Linked DNA regions of Homo sapiens: all the other regions are linked to region 3. The links come from fine-mapping of genetic effects on gene expression. A gene starts in region 3. Each other region holds a variant in brackets. All regions are shown on one strand. Distances are from middle to middle.

Region 1 (6,044 bases), 23 kb before region 3:
CAAGGGAGGCTGGGACTGGGGTCTCATCCATGGCTGGACTGGGCAGGACCCGCCCCCAGGCCATTCTCATGTTATTGGCAGGATTCAGTTTTGACTGAGGGCATCAGTTCTTCTGTGACTGTTGGTGGGGGCCCTCCCTTGGTTCACTGCCATGTGGGTCTCTCTGTAGGGCAGGCAGCTCACGGCATCAGAACTCACTTCCCCAGAGTGAGGGGTGAAGGTGGGGAGGAAAACAAGAGCAAACAAGCAAGACAGAAGTCATAGTTTTTTGTAAATCTTGGAAGTGACCTCACATCACCTGTGCTGTGTTCTGTTGGTGAGAAGCCAGTCACTAAATCCAATCACCCTCGGAGGAAGGGGATCACTCAGCAACTTATGTACCAGGAGGCAGGGATCTCTGGGGCCAGTGTGGAGGCTGCCTGGGACAGTGTCTGAGAGGAGGCAGTCAGGCCTGATTCTAAACATAACGGAGGCTGGGCGCGGTGGCTCACACCTGTAATCTCAGCATTTTGGGAGGCCGAGGCGGGTGGATCACCTGAGGTCAGGAGTTCAACACCAGCCTGGCCAACGTGGTGAAACCCCGTCTCTACAAAAAAGAAATACAAAAATTAGCTGGGTGTCTCGGCAGGTGCCTATAATCCCAGCTACTCCGGAGGCTGAGGCAGGAAAATCACTTGAACCTGGGAGGTGATGAGTGCAGTGAGCCAAGATCATGCCACTGCACTCCAGCCTGGGCGACGGAGCCAGACCCTGTCTCAATAAACAAACGAACAAACAAACAAACAAACATCATGGGAGCCATTGGAAGGTGTTCCCATTGGAAGATGCTCCCATATGCCACAGGGGGCCGATATCTGATTTTTGCTTCATTTTCAACCCGTTCATGGTGCAAATGAGGAAACCAGACCAAGAAGGGAGTGACTTTCCCCAGATCACAGCACCAGTGCCCAGCCTGTCCGACTTGTATTCCGGGCTGTGTCTCGCCCCTGTGAGAAGTTTCTTTCCTCACAGTTGTAAAGGCCAGAGGTCCAAAATCCAGGGGTCAGCAGGACCCTGCAGTCTCTGAAGGCCCTTTTCCTTCCTAATCCTTCCATCTCTAAGTCTGTGAGGCAGCTAACAGGTTTTGTAGTATTGTCTCACATTAGCGTGGTGATGTCCCCAGGAAGTAGACGTTAGAACCATCCCCATTGTGCAGGTCAGGAGACTGGGGAGGCCCTGAAAGGCACAATGGCTAGTTTGGGGTCACAGAACTGGCAAGAGGCAGGAGCTTGGTGACCCAGATGGCTTCCCCTCTCTGAGCCTCAGGGGCTGGGAGCATGAGAACACACTGGTTGGCTGTCCCAGCTCCCAGGGTGGCTGTGAGTACCTGGAAGTGCCCCTTGTCTCCCCTCACACATCTGCCATCACTCTCCCCATTTCCTTAACCCCCAGCACTGCTGCCACTTGATTTTTACGAACATCTGAATATGACGAACATACAGATTTTTACGAACATCTGAATATGACGAAGTAGCAAAGGTGGATATTCACTCATTCATTTCGTATCTGTCTCCTGGGCCCAGGCCATGCCGGGGCGGGGGGTGGGGGTAACAAGAATCCGGGGAGTTGCCAGGGGAAGGGGAAGTGCTCATCTGGGGAGTGCGTGGGCACAGAGAGATTCCAGAAGGAGGTGTCCTGTGGTCGTGGTTGATTCGTGGAGGGGAGGTGTGGTGATGGCACAGAGGGTGATGACTGGGACCAGTGTCTATCGGGTCAGCTTCCTGGGCTGCTGTCACAAAGTGCTGGGTGGCTCAACACAACAGAAATGTATTCTCTCACAGTTCTAAAGGCCAGAAGTCCAAAATCCAGGGGTCAGCAAGGCCATGCTGTCTCTGAAGGTTCTAGGAGAGGATACTTCCTTGCATCTTCCAACCTCTGGTGGCTGCCAGTTTCCTTGGCATTCGTTCCTGGTTTTGTAGACGTGTGACTGCAAACTGTGCCTTCATCAGTTCGTGTCTGTCCGCCTGTGCGTGTCTGTCCAATTTTCCCTGTTATCATAAGGATAGCAGTCATTGGATTAAGGCCCACCCTAATCCAGTATGACCTCATCCGGATTCTATCCGCACAGACCCTATTTCCAAATAAGATCTCATTCACGGGTACCAGAGATCTTTTTGTTCAGGGACACAGTTCAACCCGTAACAGGAGTATTGGGAATGATCCCCCTCCCAAAGGCCGGGTACCCGCGTGCCTACGGGGACTAGGGGAGCAGCGGGGAGTCGGAAGACATCGCAGGAACCCAGCCCCCAGCCAGGGGGTGTGGGGGCGTGAGCGGAGCCCGCCTGCTCCTCAGCTTGGCGCGCTCTGGCGGCAGCACCAGCAGGTGGCGCTGTGCCCTCCCGTGCGGCCGCCCAGCCCGGCGCGGAGCTGCCGCAGACAAAGGTCTCGCTTTCGGGTCGCGAGG[A/G]GCTTGCGCACAGCTGTAAACAGGCCAGGGGCACGGCCACCTCATGGGTGACACACACGGGAGGAAATCAAACCAGGCGGGGCCGAGGCGGGGTGACTGGGTGGCGACTTTGCGTCGGAGGCCGGCGGGGGGCGGAGGAGGAGGTGACAGGGGTGGCGAGGAGGACCATGGTTTGCAGACCGTGGTGTCAGCGGGGCGGAAAGGAAGGCAGGGAGGAGGGATAGGGGACCTGCGAGGCTGCAGGGGCCAGGAGTTTGCCTTTCGTTTGGTTCCTCGCCTGCAAGCTGAGCCGGCCTTTCTCAGGCCTCTCCAGAGGCCGTGCGGCTGATGACACTGCGGTTTGCAGATAGCTCTCCTGTTACTGCAGGCCCAGGTCTGCGGGTGCTCGGAAGGCAGCCCTGGGCACGGGTGGGCTGTCTGTGCAGATAGAGACTTGAGGGGTCCTTCCCCCCAACCCCAGCCCCAGACCCTGCCTCAGGGGAGCTGGGATGCCTGAGGTGGTCCTGCTGCTCCTGGTGGGGGTCAGCACAGCCCCTCAGAGGCGCCTTTGATATACAAAGGGGCGAGGCAGTGTGGGGCTGAGGAGCAGGGGTCAGGTCCCCGCCATGGAGCTGCTCACATGGCATCAGCGAAAGGGAGCGGAGTGCACAGCGGGCCGCTGGCCCAGGAGTGGAATGAGTGGAAGCCATTCCTTTATTTTATTATTATTATTATTATTATTATTATTATTATTGTTGTTGTTGTTGTTATTATTATTATTATTATTATTATTATTATTATTGAGACAGGGTCTTGCTCTGTGGCCCAGGCTGCAGTGCAGGGGCCAGATCACGGCTCACTGCGTCCTCGACCTCCTGGGCTCAGACCTCCAGAGTAGCTGGGGCGGCAGGTGCACGCCAACACTCCCAGCTAATTTTTGGATTTTTTTTGTAGAAACAGTTTCACCATGTTGCCCAGGCTGGTCTCAAACACCTGGGCTCAAGGGATTCCCCCCGCCTCGGCCTCCCAAACTGCTAGGATTAAAGGCTTGAGACACTGCATCCAGCAAGAGGCCATTTCTTACTGTCACCTCCCTACCCGCACAAGGCCCTCCCACCACCTCCTCGCTCACCGAGCTACCAGGCCCGCCCCTGAGGCTGCTGGTCCTTGACAGTTGGTTCAGCGATTGATTCACACAGCAGATACTGGCCTCTGTACACCTGGCTGGCGCTGGGTGCCTGGCCTGTGGGAAGCACCCTGGCTTCTGTGGAAGGCTCAGGGGTATGGGGCAGACAGATCTTGTGGAGAAGGCATGGGCTGCGAGCCTGGGGACCTGGATTCAGTGGCCACTCTGCCATCAGTGGCGTGGTCAGTCACCATTGCACGCTAGCCACAGGACTATTCTCCACAGAGTCCTTCCCTCTGTCCCCTGCTGCAGAGGTGCCTGGTGATGACAGCCAGCCTGTAGGCCTTGTGCTAAAGTGTCCCTTGTATCTGCTCAGCACTCTGCAAGATAAGTGCCACTGCCATCCTCACTTCCAGGTGGGGAAACTGAGGCACTGGAAGGGGAAGGAACTCCCACAGCTAGGTAGTGGCAGCTTGGCAATGGCGCCTCCCCGTGTGCACACAAGCCTGGGAAGGGCCAGGCACCAGGACCACATTCCTTCCAATTACAGTGGCCTTCCAACGGTCAGGGCTGGGCCCGGCTGCTGGGCAGGGCGGGGCTGGGAGGCCCTAGGCCCCAAGTGGTGGTTAATGGCGGCAAGGAGACATAAACAGAGCTAATGAGCCCCTTTCATCGTCTCCCTGCTCTAATGAAGGCCTTGGACTCTGGGCTTTGCATTTTGGGGGTTCTTGATTCTGGAGCCTCAAAGAGTCTTAGGGCCAGGGGTATGTGGGCCCCCCCATAGGGGTGGGGTGTGAGCTTATGGACTCCCAGTGTCCCCTCCCAGGGCAGCCAAGCCAGGGTGAGGAAGTGGAGAGGAAAGGGAACGGGAAGCATTGTGGCATCCCCCTAAGAATGACAAGCCCCAGAAAAAAGGGAGTGTTCCCGTGGCAACCCAGAGCAGTTGCTTGGCAACTGCTGGCCCCCAAAATACTTGCCTGCAGGAAGGCTCCGGGCTGGGGCTTTCCGATGGGCTTTCCGATGGCTCACTTCCAACCCCCACCAGCGCACACCCACCCCTGGCCCAAAAAGAAGACTCTGAGGCTGAAAGAGAAAATGCAGAGACCAGGGTCCAGGACCTTCATTAGAGCCTGGGGAGGAAGGGGCCTGACCTGCTGAGTTTCCTCAGATACTTCTCATGGCCCTCCACCCTGACACAGGACCCAGTAGACTCTGCCCCTGGATCCTTCCTGAGGGACACCCCAGTCCACTCCCCCCTCCCCATCTCCCCACTCTGCCAGCCACCCGGCATCAAGCCAGTCCCCTAGCAACAGAGGCCGCTTCCTGGATACCTGAGTGAGAGTTGACAGTGGCAGAATGTCAGAAAACGCAAGGTCAGAAAGCACAGCGATGGCTCGGTGCCAGCCAGAGTGTGTGGGGCCATGGGGTACCACGTGTGGTACCGTGTGCTTTGCCGCCCTGCAGCCGTGGGCTCCCTGGCCTGGGGCTGGATGGCATGCCAGGTTGTGGTTGGGCTGGGTACAGCCCTTGGAACAGGGGACTGTGGTTCTGGGCCAACTTTGATACCGACTGACTATGTGACCTTAGTGTGTCCCTTCTCGCTGGCCTCAGTTTCCCCATTGGTGGCCCATCTACCCCTCTGCCTGTGTGTTTACCGTTCAGTGCATAAACATTGCCCTGTGAATTATGTCACCTACTGGGGCCTTGGGGCAGGAGAGTGAGGGGACCAGGACCAGGCCGCCACTGCCCTTCCTCCTCACATGTCGGCATCCACCTCGGCCATCAGGCCCCTGGTCCTCAGGTGAGGCAGGTGGCTTTGGAGCAGGACACCTGGGTCCAAATTCCAGCTCAGCGCTTATTGCTGGGCATCCTAGAAGCAGCACAGGTCCCCTCTGAGCCTCCCTGTCTGCCCTGAGGTCCCCGCAGTTGCTGTGAGGGTGTAAGAAAGCCCTGCCCTTGGGCTCCCATAGGGGCTGCCTTAGTTTGTGGGCACCCACCCTGCACCCAGACTTGGGCACTGCGGGAGCCGAGGTGAGAACATGGATGAGGGGTGTCCAGCCTGGAAGGAGCGAGGTGGAGCCCCAGACCCTGGGAGAGGGTGGGGCAGTAGAATGGTGGGAAAAGGCAGGTGGGGCCACACTGCCCAGTGGGTTGGACTTTGGGGATGGGAAGGCTATGAGACCTGGTTGCCTCAGATGTTCTCTCTGGGGATGGCAGTGAGGGTAGGACTGTTGGTGACAACTCTGCAGGAACTCCCGGTGCTCTCATGGAGCCAGGATGCCAGTCTGACCCTGGTCATTTGCTCACTGTGTGACCCTGGGTCATGATTTCACCCCTCTGAGCCTCCCTTGCCCCATCTGTCAAATGGGCAAGGGGTGTGCCCACCTCCGGAGTTGGGTACTGGGCTCGTATGTTCACTTGGGGGTCGTCGGCTGGGCTCAGGGTGATCCCATGGGGACTCTGCCCAGCCACCCCCAGCTGGAGTGCCACAGGAGG
Region 2 (5,936 bases), 23 kb after region 3:
GTGCTGTAGGGGAGGTGAGGTCAGGGAAGTATCCAGGGCCTGGCCACATAGGCCCTGAGCCCTGCCAGGACCTCGACTTTCTCGGGGAGGAAGACAGGAGCAATGATGGCTGGCTTCTCTGTCTGGTGTGGGCTGGTACCAGAGCCGCAGGGGTGTTGGTTAGGAGGCCGCTGTGGCAACCAGGCTGGGAGCCCTGGAAGGGGCCAGCAGGGTCAGAGTCTAGACAGGATTTGGAGACAGCAGATGGGAATTGCTCACAGAATGGGTTTGCCTGGGGGCTCTTTCTTCATCCTCCAGGTGTCCTGCGACAGATGAACCATTTGTAACCCCCACCCTCTGTACCCCAGCCCTGGGTCAGGTGCCCCATTATTCACACACGCTCCTGACCCCTCATTGCCAGGAGCTAGCATGGTTGTCATTAAGCAGTCACCTGTGGCCCTATGTCCGAGTTCCGCCTGTGCTCTGGCCCTCAGGGTCAAGGTAGCAGGGGCCTGGCCTATGCTGACCACACTGAGCATCCTGGCCGGCCCCTCCTTTCTTACCTCCAGGGCTTGGACTAGGGACTGTCTGTTCCCCAGGCTCAGTGATGCTGTTATCCTGGAGGGGCAAGTGCTTCTCAAGGAAGTGTGGGAGGAGGGAACAGTCTCTTACAGGAGAAGCAGGGTAGGCACTGCTGGGACAGACCCCTCCTCATTCCATGGAGGCCTCACATGGGGAACAGAAGGACGGAGGCCTCACTTGGGGAGTAGGAGAATGTGACAAGGCCCTCTCCGGACCCAGCACCTGGCCAGAGGCTGTGAGTGCCTGTGCTTGGTGCTGAGGGGACTCCAGAGGGTCCTTGGCCACTGCACTCTGGGGGAGCCGCTCCAGGGTCTTTTCCCTGATGGTCCATCCCCCGCCGCGATGCAGGTGACCAGCCAAGATAAGGCTCCGGCTGTAATCCGCAAGGCCATGGACAAACACAACCTGGAGGAGGAGGAGCCGGAGGACTATGAGCTGCTGCAGATTCTCTCAGATGACCGGAGTAAGTCAGAAGACCAGAGGGCGATGGCAGAGGGGGCAGGTCCACACCACTCCCCAGCCCCAGGTTGGAAGCCTTTGGCCCCAGAAAATTCACCAGCAGAGTGTGGGTAGACACTGTGGACAGGGCAGCCCTGGCTGCCCCCATTGTCTGCTTGCTGTCCCCAGCAACCACTGGACCTCCCCAGTGTGTGCCCTTCCCTAGGCGTGAACAGGCAGTTCAAAGCTCACATCAGTGAGGAGCAAAGAGAAAAGGCATTTTTCACTGGGACAGGTTAGCCACGTGGCCCACTGGAAGGGACTCTTTCTGGCTAAGACAAGAAAACATGTGCTCTACAAAGAATGGTGACAGCTGTGGACCAAAGTGTCAAGTGTTAAAATCCATGAGTGTGTGATTCTAAAAGCAGAACAGGCTACTAGGAGGCCAACTCAGTATTCTAGAAACTGGGAAAGTGTCAAGAACCAGTGCAGGCTCAGAGTGGGGTATCCTGGGCCTGGAGACGCTGGGCAAGCTCCTTAAGCCCTCTGTGCTTGTCTTCTCATCCCCCAAATGGAAATGAAAGTAGCCAGTGTGTTCATCATATATGTAAAAATCTATATGTATGTATATATGTGTATATGTATGTATATATGTGTATATATATGCATGTATATGTGTGTGTATATATATGCATGTATATGTGTGTGTATATATATGCATGTATATATAAAGCATCTATGTGCACCATAAAAGTTAACTATAAATACTATCATCGCTGTTTTCTTTCCAGTGAGCTGAACACCACCTCCCACCATTAGCCCAGACAGTAAGCAATGACTCCTGTGATCCCTAGAAGTTACAGTCTAAATCCTCTGGCAGCTTCTTGCACCATTTCGGTTAGGTGGGCAGGGTAGGCGGGACCCCCATCTTACAGAAAAGGAAGACTGAGGCCTAGAGAGGTTAAAGATGACGAAAAGCCACACGATGTCGGCAGGAGCACAAATCGAGCCCAGCTCTGGTTTATAGCAGGCTGTGGGCCAGAGGAGATGGTGGGAAATGGAGCCAAAAGGAAGTGCTTGCCGGGTGCCAGGGTTCAAGGAGTACAGGCCTCCCTGGAACGGGCGCCAGAGCCCTGGGGCAGGCCTGTCCTTTCCTGGTCCTTGGATCCCTTGTCCTGAGTAGGGCAGGATTCTGGGAGGTGACCTGGATTCTAGAAAGCCTGTTCCAGGTGGGCAGCCAGCACTGCAGTATGGGCAGGACGGGGTGACCCTCTGCCAGCTCAGGCCAAGCCGGGGGGTTCTGGAGTCAGTCCCTGTTTAAACAAGAGTCATCAGGTTTTGTGAGGACCTCAGCAGAGTCTGTCCTCAGGCAGGAGTCATTGAGAGGGGTCCTTGGAGTTCTGGAGCTGTATTGGAGGGGATCTGAGGTCTGTGGCTCAAGACAGTCCTTGTATGGGCTCTCAAGCGGTAGGGGTATCCTGCAGGGCCCCCAGGAGCATCCCTGATCACCCCTCTGCCCCTCCCCACCAGAGCTGAAGATCCCTGAAAACGCCAACGTCTTCTATGCCATGAACTCTAC[C/T]GCCAACTATGACTTTGTCCTCAAGAAGCGGACCTTCACCAAGGGAGTGAAGGTCAAGCACGGAGCCAGCTCCACCCTCCCTCGCATGAAGCAGAAAGGACTCAAGATTGCCAAGGGCATCTTCTGAGGGCATCCTCCCAGGGTCTGGCTGGCTGGTAGCCAAGCACTTATGGACCAGAGTGGCCCAGGCCAGCTGGGCGCCTTCCTCCCACCTGCCAGCCCAGGGTACCCCAGACTCCAGTTTCATCCTGAACCTCTCCCGCTGCTGGGATTGACGCCTGCCATTGGTCAGGCTGACCTGGCCTCCCGTGGACCACTCGCTGCCTTAGGTGCCTTCTGCTCTCTGGAACCAGAGGACTAGCTGACTTTTGCCAAGGAGCAGTGCCAACGGGCATGGCATGGTGCCCTGCCTGCCCCCGGGCGCCACCTCTGTACACTTCCCTGACACCTTCCCAGGTGTGGGTCACTGCCACCTGTGCCCATGGGCACCCCAGAGCACCCACTGTGACCACTGCAGTTCTCTCATGCCCACAGGCACTGGCCTGTGACCTTCGCAGGGGTCCCGGCCCCTCCCACCACTCTAGCCTTTCTCAGGCTGCACCAAAGATTCCATCATCAGGGCCAACTGAGAGTGAGGGAGTCTCACCCACCGCTTACCCCAGCCCTCCCCTGGGAGCAGAGAGAGAAACCCTCTTCATGGACCAGACTCTGCACCCGGTGAGTGAGGACAGTCCCAGCTGAGTCCCATCGATGTTGAATCTCATGCCACTGCAAGTGCCATTCACCACTGCGTCCTGGGCTTTACGAGACCATGCAAGACGGGGGTTAGTGAGGAAGGAGGATTTGGGGTGGGGGTGGGGTGATTGAATATTTGTATAAAAAGCAAAAAGAAAAAAAAAATGTTTGTTTACTGATTGGGGAGGGGCAATATTTATTTGTTGTAAATAGCAAATGCTAGACTTGAATATTATATTAAAATCCTGTTTCTACTATACCCTGGTCATTACAGTTTTGTTCTTTCATTACCTGTCTTAATTAAAATGAGATAGAGACTCTCACATTCCGTGTTTAAGTAAGGACCCTTGCAGGGTTATCCAGTTATTTTATGCACAGGAAAAGCCAGCCACTCTTCTCAGCACACTGAAGGAAACACAAAAGTTTACCTTTCATACAGCAGATGTTCCTTTTGGCACCATTAAACTGGGAAATGTGCTGAGACAGCCCTCAGAACTCCTGGGACTAGAGTTTGGAGGTACTTTCACAAGGCATAGCAAGAATTTCTGAAATTTAGCTGTCTTTAAAAGTAACATTTGTGGCCAGGCGTGGTGGCTCATGCCTGTAATCCCAGCACTTTGGGAGGCCAAGGCAGGTGGATCATGAGGTCAGGAGATCGAGACCATCCTGGCTAACATGGTGAAACCCCATCTCTACTAAAAATAAAAAAAATTAGCCAGGCATGGTGCCAGGCACCTTTAATCCCAGCTATTCGGGAGGCTGACGCAAGAGAATCGCTTGAACCTGGGAGGCGGAGGTTGCAGGGAGCTGAGATCACGCCACTGTCCTCCAGCCCGGGCAACAGTGTGAGACTCTGTCTCAAAAAATAATAATAATAAAGTAACATTTGTGACAAAAGATGGCAGAGTAGGAGGCCCCAGGGTTCAGTTTTTGCACAGAAACAACGATTAAGCTGGAAGAAAGAAAACTATCAGAATAAACTGTTTTGGGACTCTGGAACCTGGTCGGACATAGTCACCAGGGGAACACTTGGTGAAGGGAGATGCTGCTGAACTCCAACAGTTAACAGGATCTCCATCAAGTCACAGGCTGACCAAGAGACAACAGAACAGAAACTTCGTGACTATACACAACAAGGAATACAAATATAAGCCTGGCAAAAATACGAATATAAGCCTGGAAAAGTCACTATGGACACAGAAGACTGCATCCTTCAATAAGCAAAAAAGCAATTCCTGAGGAGGGAGACAATCTGATTTCCAGAGTCACTGCATTATAATACTCAATGTTCAGTTCTCAAAAAATTACAAAGAAACAAAAATATGGCTCATTCACAGGGGAAAAGAGGATTTAACAGAAGCTATCCTTGAGGAAGCTCAGACATTAAAATTACTAGTCAGAGACATTAAATCACTTGTCCTAAATATGCTTGATGAGCTAAAGGAAACCATGGAAAATAATGTATGAGCAAATGGGTGATTAGCAATAAAGGGATAGAAATTATAAAAACCAACCAGAAGCTCCGGAGCTGAAAAGTATAACTGAGAAGAAAAATGTACTAGAGAGATTCAACAGCAGATTTAAGCAGGCAGAAGAAAGAATCAGTGTACTGGAAGATAAGGCAATAGAGATTATTCTGTCCAGGGAACAGAAAGAAAAAGGAAGAAAAATGAACAGAACTAGAGGTTCTTGTAGGACACCATTAAATGTACCAACATACATTTAATGAGAGTTCAGAAAAGGCAGAGATTATTTGAATAATGGTCCAGAACGTCCCAAATTTGATGAAAGACATAAATCTCCATATCCAAGAAGCTCAATGAGTTTCAAACAGGATAAACTCAGATCCATACCCAAATTTATTAGTCAAATTGTCAAAAGACAGAAAATCTTGAAAGCAGCAAGAAGAGATTCATCATATACAAGAGATCCTCAGGATTAACAGCTGATTTCTCATCAGAAACCATGGAGTCTAGAAGGTAATAGGATGACATATTTAAAGTGCTGAAAGAAGGCTGAGCATGGTGGCTCACACCTGTAATCCCAGCACTTTGGGAGGCCGTGGTGGACAGATCATCTGAAGTCAGGAGTTCGAGACCAAACTGGCCAACATGGTGAAACCTTGTCTCTACTAAAAATACAAAAATTAGCCAGGCATGGTGGCACATACCTATAGTCCCAACTATTTGGAGGCTGAGCCAGGAGAATCGCTTGAACCCGGGAGACGGAGGTTGCAGTGAGCCAAGATCGCACCACTGCCCTCCAGCCTGAGCGACAGAGCAAGACTCCGTCTCAAAAAATATTCTCAAAATAAAGTGCTGAAAGAAGAAGCAAAACATCCTTTAAGGATGAAGGAGAAATTAAGACATTCTCAGATAAAAGTTAAGGGAGTTTTATTAGTAGACCTGCCCTACAATAAATGGTAAAGGGAGTCCTTCCAGCTAAAATAAACACTAGACAGTAACTTGAAGCCATATGAAAAACTAAAGAACACTGGTAGAGATAACTAACAGGTAGTTAGCAAAGCCAGTGTTATTTCACTTTGGATTTGTGTAACTCATCCTTTTTTCTTATGATTTAAAGGTAAAATTCATAAAGCTATAAATCCACATTAATGGAAACA
Region 3 (6,044 bases):
CACACCCAGCCTCTGTGTCTGTCTCTATGTCTCTGAGTAGGTATGTCTCTGTCTGTGTGTCTCTATCTCTGCGTGTGTGTCTCTGTTCCAATGTCTCTGTGTGTGTGTCTCCGTCTCTAAATGTGTGTGCCTGTGTCTGTCTCTGTGCGTCTGTGTCTCTGTGTCTGTCTCTATGTGTGTGTGTGTGTGCCTGTGTCTCTGTCTCTATGTGTCTCTGTGGGTCTGTGTGTGTGTCTGTGTCTCTGTCTCTATGTATGTGTCTCTGTGTGTGTGTGTCTGTGTCTCTGTCTCTATGTGTGTGTCTGTGTGTGCATCTCTGTGTATCTTTGTGTCTGTGTGTGTGTGTGTCTGTGTCTCTGTCTCTCTGTGTGTCTCTGTGTGTGCATCTCTGTGTATCTTTGTGTCTCTGTGTGTGTGTGTGTGTCTGTGTCTCTGTCTCTATGTGTGTGTCTCTGTGTGTGCATCTCTGTGTATCTTTGTGTCTCTGTGTGTGTGTGTGTGTCTGTGTCTCTGTCTCTATGTGTGTGTCTCTGTGTGCATCTCTGTGTATCTTTGTGTGTCTGTGTGTGTGTGTGTGTGTCTGTGTCTCTGTCTCTCTGTGTGTGTCTCTGTGTGTGCATCTCTGTGTATCTTTGTGTCTCTGTGTGTGTGTGTGTGTCTGTGTCTCTGTCTCTATGTGTGTGTCTCTGTGTGTGCATCTCTGTGTATCTTTGTGTCTGTCTGTGTGTGTGTGTCTCATGTACAGCCAGAGCAGTGATCAGGCTTCCCAGAAGTTGGGAGGTGAGTCCCAAAGGTAGGGGAACAAGGCAGGAAGAGGAACTTTGTAAAAACAGACACCGGCCAGAGGGACTGGCTAAGTAACGCCCTCCCCCGCCCTGGCTCCTGTAGATGATATAGTCAGATGGGAGGGAGCCAGGCCAGCCGCGTTGGGGGGTTTAGTGTGATGAATTCTTTACTCTTCACCACTCCAGCCTCCTTGGGGCCACCCCTCGCCCCAGCACCCAGGACCTTCAAGGCCAGAATAGTGGTGATTCCTCTATGTCCTCATGAGTCACTTGTCCTTCTGGGCTATAAAACGGGTGGGCGCTTGTTCCCAGGCCCATCACTCAGCGAAGGAGATAAAGAGAGCAGAGGAGATAAAGTCAGTGGCAGGCAGCTTCTGGACTTTCAGTTTCCGGAGGCATTGGGAGCTTGGCCCCAGAAGAAAGGGATGGGAGGAGGAGCTTAGGGCCGAGGGCAGTGTCTCGGTCACCTCTTTGTGGCCCTGTGGGGACCTCCTGCCTCGAAATACGCCTCACCCACATTACCCTCCCTGGCCAAACGGCTTGGAGGCTTCCTAAACAGCCTCTAGGGATCTCCATCCCAAATCAAATCTACCCATCTTGCTTCTTAAAAAAAAAACAAAAACAGGCTGGGCGTAGTGCTCCTGCCTGTAATCCCAGCTCTTTGGGAGGCCGAGGCGAGCGGTTCACTTGAGGTCAGGAGTTCAAGATCAGCCTGGCCAACATGGTGAAACCCTGTCTCTACGAAAAATACAGAACTAGCTGGGCATGGTGGCAGGTGCCTATAATCCCAGCTCCTCGAGAGGCTGAGGCAGGAAAATCACTTGACCCCAAGAGGCGGAGGCCTTAGTGAGCCGAGATCACACCACTGCACTCCAGCCTGGGTGACAGTGAGACTGTCTCAAAAACAGCATTTATCACATAGAGCTGATTATTAAAATACTGATTTTAGAAATTAGAAATTCAGAGAAGTAAAATGAAAACCAGTAGAGCTTCCACCCAGCTGCAACTTACCACCATAATTTTTGTGAAGTAGGCCCTTCTAGTCGTGTGCACATGGGGGTCTTGTTCTGAACGGATGAACTGCCGCCTCACTCCAGTCACAGTGGAAGTGTTTCGTGGGTGTCTGAGGATTGGCACTTGGGAAGGGGGCAAGATGTGCTCGTGGAATGTGCTGTCTGGTCCCGCCCTCTCAGTTTACAGATGGAGAAACTGAGGCCCAATAGTACGGACCAGACCTGGGGAGGTTGGCATGGCCAGGGCTGCTGGCAGCAATTGCTGGCCTCCATGAAGACTGAAGGCTGAGGCCAGGGCAGGCCCAGTGATGAGTGAGGCATGAGGAAGGGTCCCATTCATTCATCCATTCTCCTGGCCCTGCTGTTAAGCCCCAGGCTGTCTTCCTTCCTCACTGGCTTCCAGAAAGAGTAGTTGAGGATGTCCCTGTCCCTGCTTCCCCTTCAGCCCCAGCAGCCCCACTTCCACCCTGAGACCAGGGATGTCCAAGCCACAAGCAGCCCCAGCTGACAGGCCACGCAGCCATGTGCTCTGCCCAGCGTTGTCACTCTTGATGCCTTCCTCCTTGTCAGATGCCTCTCAGCCCCAACCTTGGTGCCTTCCGCTCTCCCCCACCTCCCTGGCTTCCCCTCCTCTGAGGGTGTCTGTAAGGGGATAGTGTGGGGCTTTGCCCCAAAAAGGTAGGGCCCCACTCTCTGACCCTTTCCCCCACTGCACACACAGCCCCACACTCAGGATTTCCAATTGCACTGACAGGGTCACTGAACACATGGTCAGCCTCTCCAAACTCCGCCTGAGCCTGTAGTCAGGTGCAGGTGCTCAGTGCTGAGTGCTTCATGTCCATTACGTAATGTCATCCTCCCCGCAACTGTTTGAGGAAGTCATTTTCACTACCCAGATTTTCCAGATGAAGAAACAGTGAGGCTCAGAGGGGTTAAGCAACTTGTGGAAGGCCACAGAGTTGGGGAGAGGCTTTGCTGGAATTCGGGGTAGCTGACTCCAGGGCGGCTTCCCCACACATGATCAGCACGTACACATTTCAGCCCTACGCAACACACGCACTGCAGCAGCGTGACACGCAAACGGTGCCTAACCGGGGTACCCAAGGCCCCACGACACACGTGACAGCCGGTCCTCCGGGAGACCCAGCCAACGCGCACCCCTCGACCTCCCCGGCCCCGCCCTCTTTGTTCAGACCCCGCCCCTCCAGGCTCCCGGTCCCGCCCCGGGTCTGACCTCGGCGAGGGCGGGGCCGCGGGCGCGCGCACGCACGCGTCCCTCGGACTCTCCGGTTCCGCCCCTCCCCGGCCCCACCCTCTTCCCCTCCGGCCCCGCCCCCCAGCCTGACATCAGCAGGGCCGGGCCGCGGGCTCACAGCGGTGGCAAAGCCCAGCCGCGCGGGCCGCGCCGCCGCCCCCGCCGCGCGCCGGGCCGGCCCCGCGCCCGCGCTGCGAGCCTTCCATGGTGCAGCGCATGTGGGCCGAGGCGGCCGGGCCTGCTGGCGGCGCCGAGCCGCTGTTTCCGGGCTCCCGGCGGAGCCGCAGCGTGTGGGACGCCGTGCGCCTGGAGGTGGGCGTCCCCGACAGCTGCCCGGTGGTGCTGCACAGCTTCACGCAGCTAGACCCCGACCTGCCGCGCCCGGAGGTGGGTGAGCTGGGGCGGTCGGGCGGGGGGTGCGTCGGAGCCTCCCCACCCGCGGCAGAGCTGGGCAGGTCGGGGCGAGCCCCGGACGGGGCCGGGCGATCCCAGCGGGCCGCCTCCCTCCTCTCTCCTCCATAGGTGGGGGTCGGGGCCTTCTGCAGAAATCAGCCAGCAGGGTGGGCAGTGGGGGCTGCCGCCGCGCCCCGTCCAACAGTAGGGACCACGGCTGGGGTTTTGCGCCCCTCAATACCGTTCCAGGGCCTGCTGTCACCAAGGCCGCTGCAGCCCAGGTGGACCTTTTTCTGCGGCACTGTCCCTGTTTACATCGGTGGCCTGTGCCTTATTTCACTCAGTTCCCACCCAGGGCCCGCAGCGCGTCGTTAGCCTTTACGATGCAGGTGTGGAACAAGTGGTCGGGAAGGCCAAATCCTAGAATCCTCAGAGGTGATGAGACCATAGGGGCCTTCCAGACAGACCCTACTTGGGGCAGATGTGGATCTGGTGACCAGGGACATCGGGGCTGCTCAGAGCGGGGTGGGGGGGGGGTCGGGGGATGGGGTGGAGCAGCAGGCCTCCAACACGTGGGACCAGATGTCCTGGTGGTGAGGGGAGGAGGGTGGCCCAGGCCCAGGGCGGGCAAGACTTGTTTCTGCTTAACTGGAAAGAGTGCCAACACCCTGAATCGGTAAGGACTGGGTAGGATTCAGAGAAGGGAGTGGTGTACCTGTGATGGATGGAGGGGAGGGTGACTAGGTGAGGGCGGGGGCTTGTTTCTCGTGTGCCCTGGGTCTCTGGGTGGTGCCATCTGCCTCCCACCTGACTGCTGCTGACTACACAGCAGAGGGAGTGGAATCCAGAGATGCCCCCCTCGCCCTGCTCTGCCTGGGCACAGGGCCTGCACAGAGGCCATTCCTGGATCGGGGGCTCAGGGCCCATCAGAGCTTTGGCTGGGCTGCAGCCTTCACAGTGAACCTCCTGAGTCCCCGTGCGGCATCGTGTTGCCTTGCTGCGTCTCCAGTCGCTTCATGGCTTTAGACTGTGGCGCGTTGTGATTGCTGGCGATTGTTAGCCTGAGTCTCGTGCCTCTTGGTGTCCCGGTACCTAGACAGGGCCTGGATGCGACTTGTTTCTCCGCCCAGTGTTGGGCAGAGCTCTTGGTGGGGGAACACCACACGCCTGAGAGACCCTTTCCTCCTGAGCTTGGCAGATGGCCGGACCAGACGTGTTCCCTCAACCCTCATCTATCCAGGGCTCTGGTCCTCATTGGCGGCTGGAGAGGGACCCCTGGGAGGGTGGGGGTGGGAGGCTGACACCAGCCCAGCGCTCATCTGGCTTTCATTACCTCTGGCAGCAGCTCGGGCTTTGTGTGCTGGGAGGGTCCGGCGGAGCGCTCACAGTGGCCGTGCAGGTTCCCTCTCTCCGTCCCTGAGGAACTGAGGGAGAGGCAGAGCTGAGCCCCACCCCTGCCTGGGGGTCTTGTCTTCCCTCTCTCTGGCCCTGGCGCTCCTTGCCCAGCCTCAGCACTGAGATCCAGACCTCGACTGCTATTTAGAAATCAAAGGGGAAGCTTCTGGCTGGGTCAGGAAAACCAGGATCCTGGCAGGAGAGGAGGCCACTGCCGGAAACTGAACACAATGACCATTTACCAAGGGCCCAAGGGAGGGGGCGGGGAAGTCCCTGTCCCTCCTGCCAACACCCCCCGTCCTGGGGCTGGTTTCCTGGTGTCTATGTGGCCTGCCAGAGCTGACGCTGCGCACTTGGTCCCTGTCCTCTCTGGAAACCACCAGACAGTTTCTGCCTTCCCCCGCATCCCTGTTTCCCTACCTAGCTTCCACCCGGTGCTTCCCTCTGGGCTGCCAGATCTCCTCACATCTGGGCTTCCGCTTATCTTCCCGATTCTAAGCCAAGCCACCAATGACCCAGCTTGGCCTGCACAGTTCTTGCTTTCTGGAGGTGACCTGGTCCGTGCCCCCATCTCTGGACAGGCTGTTGCTTTGGCCAGACAAAAAGTGCAGGTTGTGGGCCACCCCCTCACTTCATCTGCCTTAGACCAACCCTACAGAGTAGGTGCCAACACCACCTTCTAGGAAGCTAGGGGGTCAGAGAAGGGAAGTCTCTGACCTAAACACCCGTGCAGCCAGCAAGGGCCGCAGCCAGGATTTAAGCATGGGCTGTGTTCTCTGTGGCACCTACTGTGTGCAGGAGCCACCAGGAGTCAGAGGAAGCCCAGGCAGCCCAGAAGCCCTGAGGTCAGGTGAGCAGTAGGGAAGCTTATGGCTCAGAGGAAGGCAAAAGTGCTTTGGGCCACAGGACGCTGGGGAGAGCTACCTGGAGGAAGCAAGCCCAGAACTGGACCCCACAGGTTTAAGATAACAGCTAATAAGAGCCAGCAGGTTTTGGGGAGGTCCTTGGCTAAGTAATTTGCATCATCTCCTTTTGGGGTCAAGACTGTTAAGAGCTCACTTGACAGATAAAGTCACTGAGGCAACAGAGGTGAATTAGATTGCACAGAGTGACCAAGCTGGTCAGTGGCAGGGCCAGGATTCTGACCCAAGGCCTGAGGGCAGTTGCAGGTGGGCTGGAGTGAAGAGGGCTTCTCTGTATTCA
Region 4 (6,044 bases), 40 kb after region 3:
TAGAAGCCACTGAGGGAACTGATGGAGAAGGAGCTCCCTCTCTCAGGGCTGGGTTCCAGTCCATCAGCCAAAAATGGTGCGAGGTCTGCATTGTACTCCAGACCCCTGGACGGGCCCCTAGAGGACCCAGTGGCTGCTGAGGCAGGCGGGGCCTGGCTGTCACTGGGCCCAGCACAGCAGGCTTTGCTTCTAGCGGGGCCGTGGGGGTTGCTTTGTTTGGGCTTGTCCATCCTGAGGGCCTCAGGGTGGGGAAATGGGGAGGGGTCGTGATGACCTGCCGAAGGCCTCTCAGCACCCCAAGAAGAGCTCGCCCAAGAAGAAGGTGACCTGTCCTTTGAGTCAGGAGCCCAGGACCACTGCCCAAACCTCCCGGTCCCAGGGCCAGGGAGTGTGGAGAGCAGGCAGCAGAGGTGGAGACAGGAGTCCCCAGGGCCTGAGACACCGCAGGCGGCAGAACAGCGTGGTTGGGATCTGGGGTCCCCTGTGTGACTCCTGCTGGGGGCAGGGACTGGGCCGGGCACCGACACCGGCTTCCTGTGGGGCTTGGGGTTTCTGTGGCTTCTCCTTCACAGGCAGAGAGGGTAGAATTTATGGATGCCTCGAGAGAGCTCCTGCCTGCCGGCTCTCTTTCTGGAGGGACCCGGACCCGGGTGTGGAGTAGCTCGGCTTTCAGCTTCCTGCACAGGAATAGGAGGCAGCAGCTGTGCCATGCTGGGCAAACTGCCTGCCTGCTTCTCTCCAGCCGTCTGCCTGCTCTCCACACTCCCTGCCCCTGGGCCCGTTTCCCCTTCTGTAAAATGGGAACAACAGAGAGGTTGGTAGGTGGAATCACCAGGATTAGCAAATGTAAATTCAAGAGGCCCAGTTACATTTGAATTTCAGGTAAACAGTGAATTGTTTTTTAGTATGTTTCATTTTTTTCTTTTTCTATTTTTTGAGACAGAGTCTCGCCCTGTCACCCAGGCTGGAGTGCAGTAGCGTGATCTCAGCTCACCGCAATCTCCACCTCCCAGCTTCAAGCGGTTCTCCTGCCTCAGCCTCCCGAGTAGCTGGGATTACAGGCACCCACCACCACGCCCGATTAATATTTGTATTTTTAGTAGAGACGGGGTTTCACCATGTTGGCCAGGCTGGTCTCCAACTCCTGACCTCAAGTGATCCACCCACCTCGGCCTCCCAAACTGGTGGGATTGCAGGTGTGAGCCACTGCGCCCGGCCCATAGAAATTTGTTTCAAATATTGCATGGGACATACTTACACAGCAGTTCTTGGCAGTTTATCTGAAATTCAAATGGAATTGGGCATCCTGCGTTCTACCTGGCACCTGTCCCCATAGAAATGAGCGTGAGTGCCCGGGATCTGCTGCGGGGCTGTGCTGGGCTCTTTCTCAGCCTGGCCCGAAGTTTCCAGATCTGATTGAGCGAGAGAGCAGCAGGACCTGCCCCTCTGCTGGGCTCTTACCTTCGCGGCACTCGCCACTGCCCAGCAGCAGGTGAGGCCCAACACAACCAGTTGCAGGCGCCCCATGGTGAGCATCAGCCTCTGGGTGGCCCTCCCTCTGGGCCTCGGGTATTTATGGAGCTGGATCCAAGGTCACATGCTTGTTCATGAGCTCTCAGGCACTCCCTCCCCTCTACACCCTCAGGTGCAGGGAGATCCAGTTTTCCCCAAACCCACAGTGCACCTGTGCAGGTTACCACTTACCTGGGAGCAGAGGCAGGTGGCAAGGTGGCGGGTGGTAAGGGGGATGGTGGGGCCGGGCAGGGTGCACAGTGCCCTGCCTTCTGGTTTGTTCACAGGGCTTGGTGTCACTGTCAGAGAAAAGGGCATACTTTGTCTCCATGCCCTGCCTGTCCCCTAGGTCCCCAGAGGGGCTTCACAGGGGACCAAGCACGTGACTTCTGGGACAGAGAGGGTGACATGCTGTGGGCCCCCCACCCAAGTGGCTGACCTTATCTGTACGAGCTTTTCCTGGGGCCATGGAGCAAGCAGTCCAAGCTGGGTGCGGGTCCCAGAGCAGCACAAAGCCGTCTCATTCAAGGGTGGGGAGATGTCACCATCCAGCCTGATGCATCCTGGGAGGGAGGACTAGAGGCTCAGGGGGTGTGGGTGGGGGGGTGCGGAGGCATCTAGCCCAAACTTGTGGTCTTCCCTGAGGAAAGAAAGGACACAGCCAAGGCCCTGGGGCATGCCCAGGCAGAGTGACAGGAGAGAAAAGGAGGCCAGCGGGAGGGAAGGGAGAAGGTCCTGTGAGGTTGTGGAGGAAGAGGAGGCCACTCGTATTTTCTGTGAACAGGTATTAATCCTGGAGCCAGGAAAGGCTCTGAGAAGTGAAAGAACACCACGAACAAAGTCTTCAGATGGGGCCTGTAAGCTCAGCCAGTGTGAGGTCACCCTCACCGAGACGCTCGGTGGCAGCTCCAGCCACCGCACAGCCCTCTGCAGTGATGGGAACAGGGTGAGGGCAGCCAGAGCCTTCCCACCCAACAGTCCCCCAGGAGACACTGGGGCCTGTGCTTCCCACACCAACCACACTCCCGTTCTGCCACCCCTGCGGCCGGTGCCAGGGACCGAGTGGACCTGCAGAGCCACGTCTGTCCCTCTGTCTGTCGACCACAGCCGGTGCC[A/CA]GCAATTCAGGAGGCCTAGTGGGCGAGGGAGGCTGGGGAAAGGACTGGAGGGTGGGAGGAGGAGCTCGGCCACAGGAAATAAGGGGCCTGCAGGTGGCTGGGGCGCCCCAGGGCAAAGGCATTTGCCTCAGACCTTTGCCCGGCTACTCTAGTTCTGAGAACCTGCCCTAAATAAAGGAGGTAATTCTGAACTGGGAGACATGCCCTTTGTGCTCCAGGATATTCACTGCAGTGTCATTTACAGTGGCTAAGGAGGAAAGGGGAGGGCAGAGGGGAGGCAGCAGGGAGAGGAAGGAGGTGGGGGAGAGGGCTGGGGCAGGGGAGAGGGAAAGGAAGGCCCCACTTTTTATATATATACATTTTTAGAGCAGATTTAGGTTCACAGCAAAATTAGAAGAAGGTTACAGAGATTTCCCGTATGTCCTCGCCCCAACCCAGTCTCCCCCATTATCAACATCCCCCACCAGGGGGTACAGCTGTTATACTTTATGAACCTACATTGACATGTCATAATCACCCAGAGTCCACAGATTTAGGGGTTTTTTTGTTTGTTTTGAGACAGGGTCTCACTATCACCCAGGCTAGAGGGCAGTGGCACAATAACAGCTCACTGCAGTCTTGAACTCCTGGGCTCAAGGGATCCTCCTGCTTTAGCCTCTCAAGTAGCTGGGATTACAGGCGCCCGCCATCACACCCGGCTAATTTTTGTATTTTTAGTAGAGAGGGAGTTTCGCCATGTTGGCCAGGCTGGTCTCGAACTCCTGAGCTCAAGTGATCTGCCCGCCTCAGCCTCCCAAAGTGCTGGGATGACAGTTGTGAGCCACTGCGCCCAGCCCCTAACCTAGTTTTGGCCATGCTCTGAGCCCACATTCTTTGTGGAACCTCAAGATGGTATCTAAGCTCTGTACTCTGTTGAGAAGTTGGGTCTCCATTTCAAAGGCTCCCGTGTATACGCATTAAACAAATATGTATGCTTTTCTCCTATGAGACAATCTGTCAGTGATTTTTCAGTGGTCCTTCAGAGGGAGAAGGGGAAAGCTCTCCCTTGGTCCCCATAGTATCATCCTGAATAGTTTGAATGCTCTAAAACCCCCCTGGGCTCCATTGATTCATTCCTTCCTCACTCAAATCCCTTGAAGCGGCTACATTGTCTGGTCTACATACCCGGGGTTTGTCGTCATGCACCAGGAAAATTTAGGACAGGGACAAACACGAGGACTTTAGGAGCGGAGGTTTAATAGATAGAAGAGAGGAAAAAGAGAAACATCTCTCTCTTCTCCAAGCATAAAGGACTGGTGGGCAGCAGACACACTGAATTTTATATTCAGGTTTGTCCTTGCCCAGCCCTGCCAGCCGACTGCAGGAGCAGGAGAACTAAGGAAGGGAAAAGGAAGCAGATGAAAGGCTTAAGAAAAAGGCGGATCTGTTGGCAGCAGCCCTTATAGAAAGAGAAATTAGCCATGTGAGAGGATGTGGACGCAGATGTGGACGTGGAAGAGGTCAAGTTAGACAAGGATTTAAGAGCTGACCAAGGCTAGAGAGGGATCAATGTGAGAGATGCAAAAAAAAAAAAAAAAAAAAAAAAAAAAGGGGGCACTGGAAGGATGAATGTCCAGAAGGCAATGAGGGAAATGGCCAAGGCCGTGAGACAAAGAGGCCATTGGCCAAGGGCTGCCATACCTTAGAGGAACCAGATACTAATCTGATTGGGCTGGCAGGAGCTGAAGGATGTGAGGACTAGGACAGACCGGGCTCCTTCTCACTGGGCCTCCAGGAGTCTGTGGTCACATTAGAAGTTGAAGGCAGCAGGATTCTGCCGTATCTGGATTCCAGATTTCTCGCTGATGGCTGAGCTATTATATGAAGTTACAAAAAGAGGAGAAAAGGAACCCCTCCTCTGGGAAACAGAACAGGAGAAGGAGCCATGCCTTGTGAAAACTTCCTTATAGACTTAAACGAAATGCCCCGTGCCAGAAGCTATCGGTATATTCTAGTGTTTATTTGCATCTTTTTCAGGATAGGTTGAAGCTTTCCCCACCAGGACAGAAAAAGCACGACAAATGACTAAAGTACTGTTAAAAGATATTATCCCCAGGTTTGGACTGCCTCTATCTTTACAGTCAGACAATGGGCCGGCATTTGTAGCTGAAATAGTACGAGATTTAACAAGACTGTTAAAAATAAAATGGAAGTTACACACAGCCTATTGGCTGCATAGTTGAGGAAAAGTGGAACGCATGAAGTGGACACTCAAGCAGCTACTGAAGAAATATTGCCAGGAAGCTCATCTGAGATAAGTTCAGGTTTTGCCTATGGTCCTCCTCCGAGACAGGTGCACCCCCACCAAACAAACTGAGTATTTACCCTATGAGGTTTTGTTCAGTTGGCCAACCCCAAATCATAGGTCAAATTAAAGGTGATCTCCAGGAACTAGAGGAATTAACCTTAAGAAAGCAAATGCAGGCTTTAGGAATAGCCATGCAAGAGGTCCATGGCTGGGTACAAGAAAGGATGCCTGTAAGCCTGATAGACCAGTGTGCCCCTTTAAATCTGGAGACTCTGTTTGGGTTAAAAAGTGGAATCCAACTTCTCTAGGACCCATATGGGGTGGGCCCTGTACTGTCATCTTGTCCACTCCCGTTGCTGTTAAAGTTGCAGGTGTTATGTCTTGGATCCACCACAGTCGGCTGAAACCGGCAGCTCAGGACGAGTGGACCAGCCAGCAGGACACAGATCATCCAACCCAGCTGATCCTGAGAAGACAACAAGCTGCTGCTGAGGACGATCACCCTGCTCTGGTCACTCGTGAGGCTGACCAGTCAACGCACGGCTGAAGCTTAAGGAGACAAGCCCCGCTCTAGTCACACACCCGAAGCTGACTAGTCTACGCACGGCCGAAGCTTGAGGACTCGTCAAGCAAGTAAATGTGGTTAGAAATCTTAGGACTAGTAGTCTTCCTTATAATACTAACTGTTTTACTATTGTTCCGTTGCTGTGCTCAATCTCCTCCCCCAGGCAAGGCCCTCTTCTGTCCTTGCTGGATATGAATACGCTGTACATTGTTTTGCTGTTATCACCCCCCTTGACCATGTTAAAATAAGTACCCTTAGAAAGTGTCCCCATTGTACACACACTACAGGGTCAGGAAACAGTATAACTAGGACTCTATTATTCTATACTTATTAGGAGTGTACAGGGACTCACCTAGGAACTTGTACTTACAATCGGATCACCTATTCAATTTGTGACCCAGGAAATGGCCAGCCTTATATATGCTATGACCTTCTAAGTCTTTACCTAGGACTTGGTTTGAGGTTCATACTGAGTCAAAGAAAGGAAGTCTTATAAATCAAAGCCAAGCCTCTACCCCCCAGGGGGGGCTATAGCCATATACTTTGATATTTGTCAGTTAACATC

Evidence for each region.
Region 1: its variant is fine-mapped to the expression of RALGDS in whole blood (TOPMed, PIP above 0.99). The same link has a PIP of 0.9 or more in T cells and blood mononuclear cells.
Region 2: its variant is fine-mapped to the expression of RALGDS in nasal epithelium (TOPMed, PIP above 0.99).
Region 4: its variant is fine-mapped to the expression of RALGDS in cerebellar hemisphere (GTEx, PIP 0.93).

What each region holds. Positions count from the first base shown.
Region 1 is chr9:133,140,919-133,146,962 of GRCh38, reverse strand. It overlaps a transcript of RALGDS not described here. Among named protein-coding and RNA genes, the nearest start is that of GBGT1, 20 kb to the left of the region's middle. RefSeq lists silencers at 2,198-2,317, 2,348-2,447 and enhancers at 2,594-3,153, 3,606-3,695, 3,746-3,875, 4,275-4,324, 4,375-4,654. The variant A/G (reference allele first, on the strand shown) is at 2,444.
Region 2 is chr9:133,095,356-133,101,291 of GRCh38, reverse strand. It overlaps RALGDS (ral guanine nucleotide dissociation stimulator), which reads left to right. Exons shown (of 18, transcript NM_006266.4): 17 at 910-1,024; 18 at 2,530-3,570. The coding sequence ends at 2,705. Among named protein-coding and RNA genes, the nearest start is that of RALGDS, 23 kb to the left of the region's middle. RefSeq lists an enhancer at 1-90. The variant C/T (reference allele first, on the strand shown) is at 2,579.
Region 3 is chr9:133,118,368-133,124,411 of GRCh38, reverse strand. RALGDS (ral guanine nucleotide dissociation stimulator) reads left to right here and starts at 3,172. Exons shown (of 18, transcript NM_006266.4): 1 at 3,172-3,440. The coding sequence starts at 3,258. RefSeq lists a silencer at 2,883-3,592 and an enhancer at 3,572-4,268.
Region 4 is chr9:133,078,044-133,084,087 of GRCh38, reverse strand. It overlaps the pseudogene CELP. Among named protein-coding and RNA genes, the nearest start is that of CEL, 19 kb to the right of the region's middle. The variant A/CA (reference allele first, on the strand shown) is at 2,628.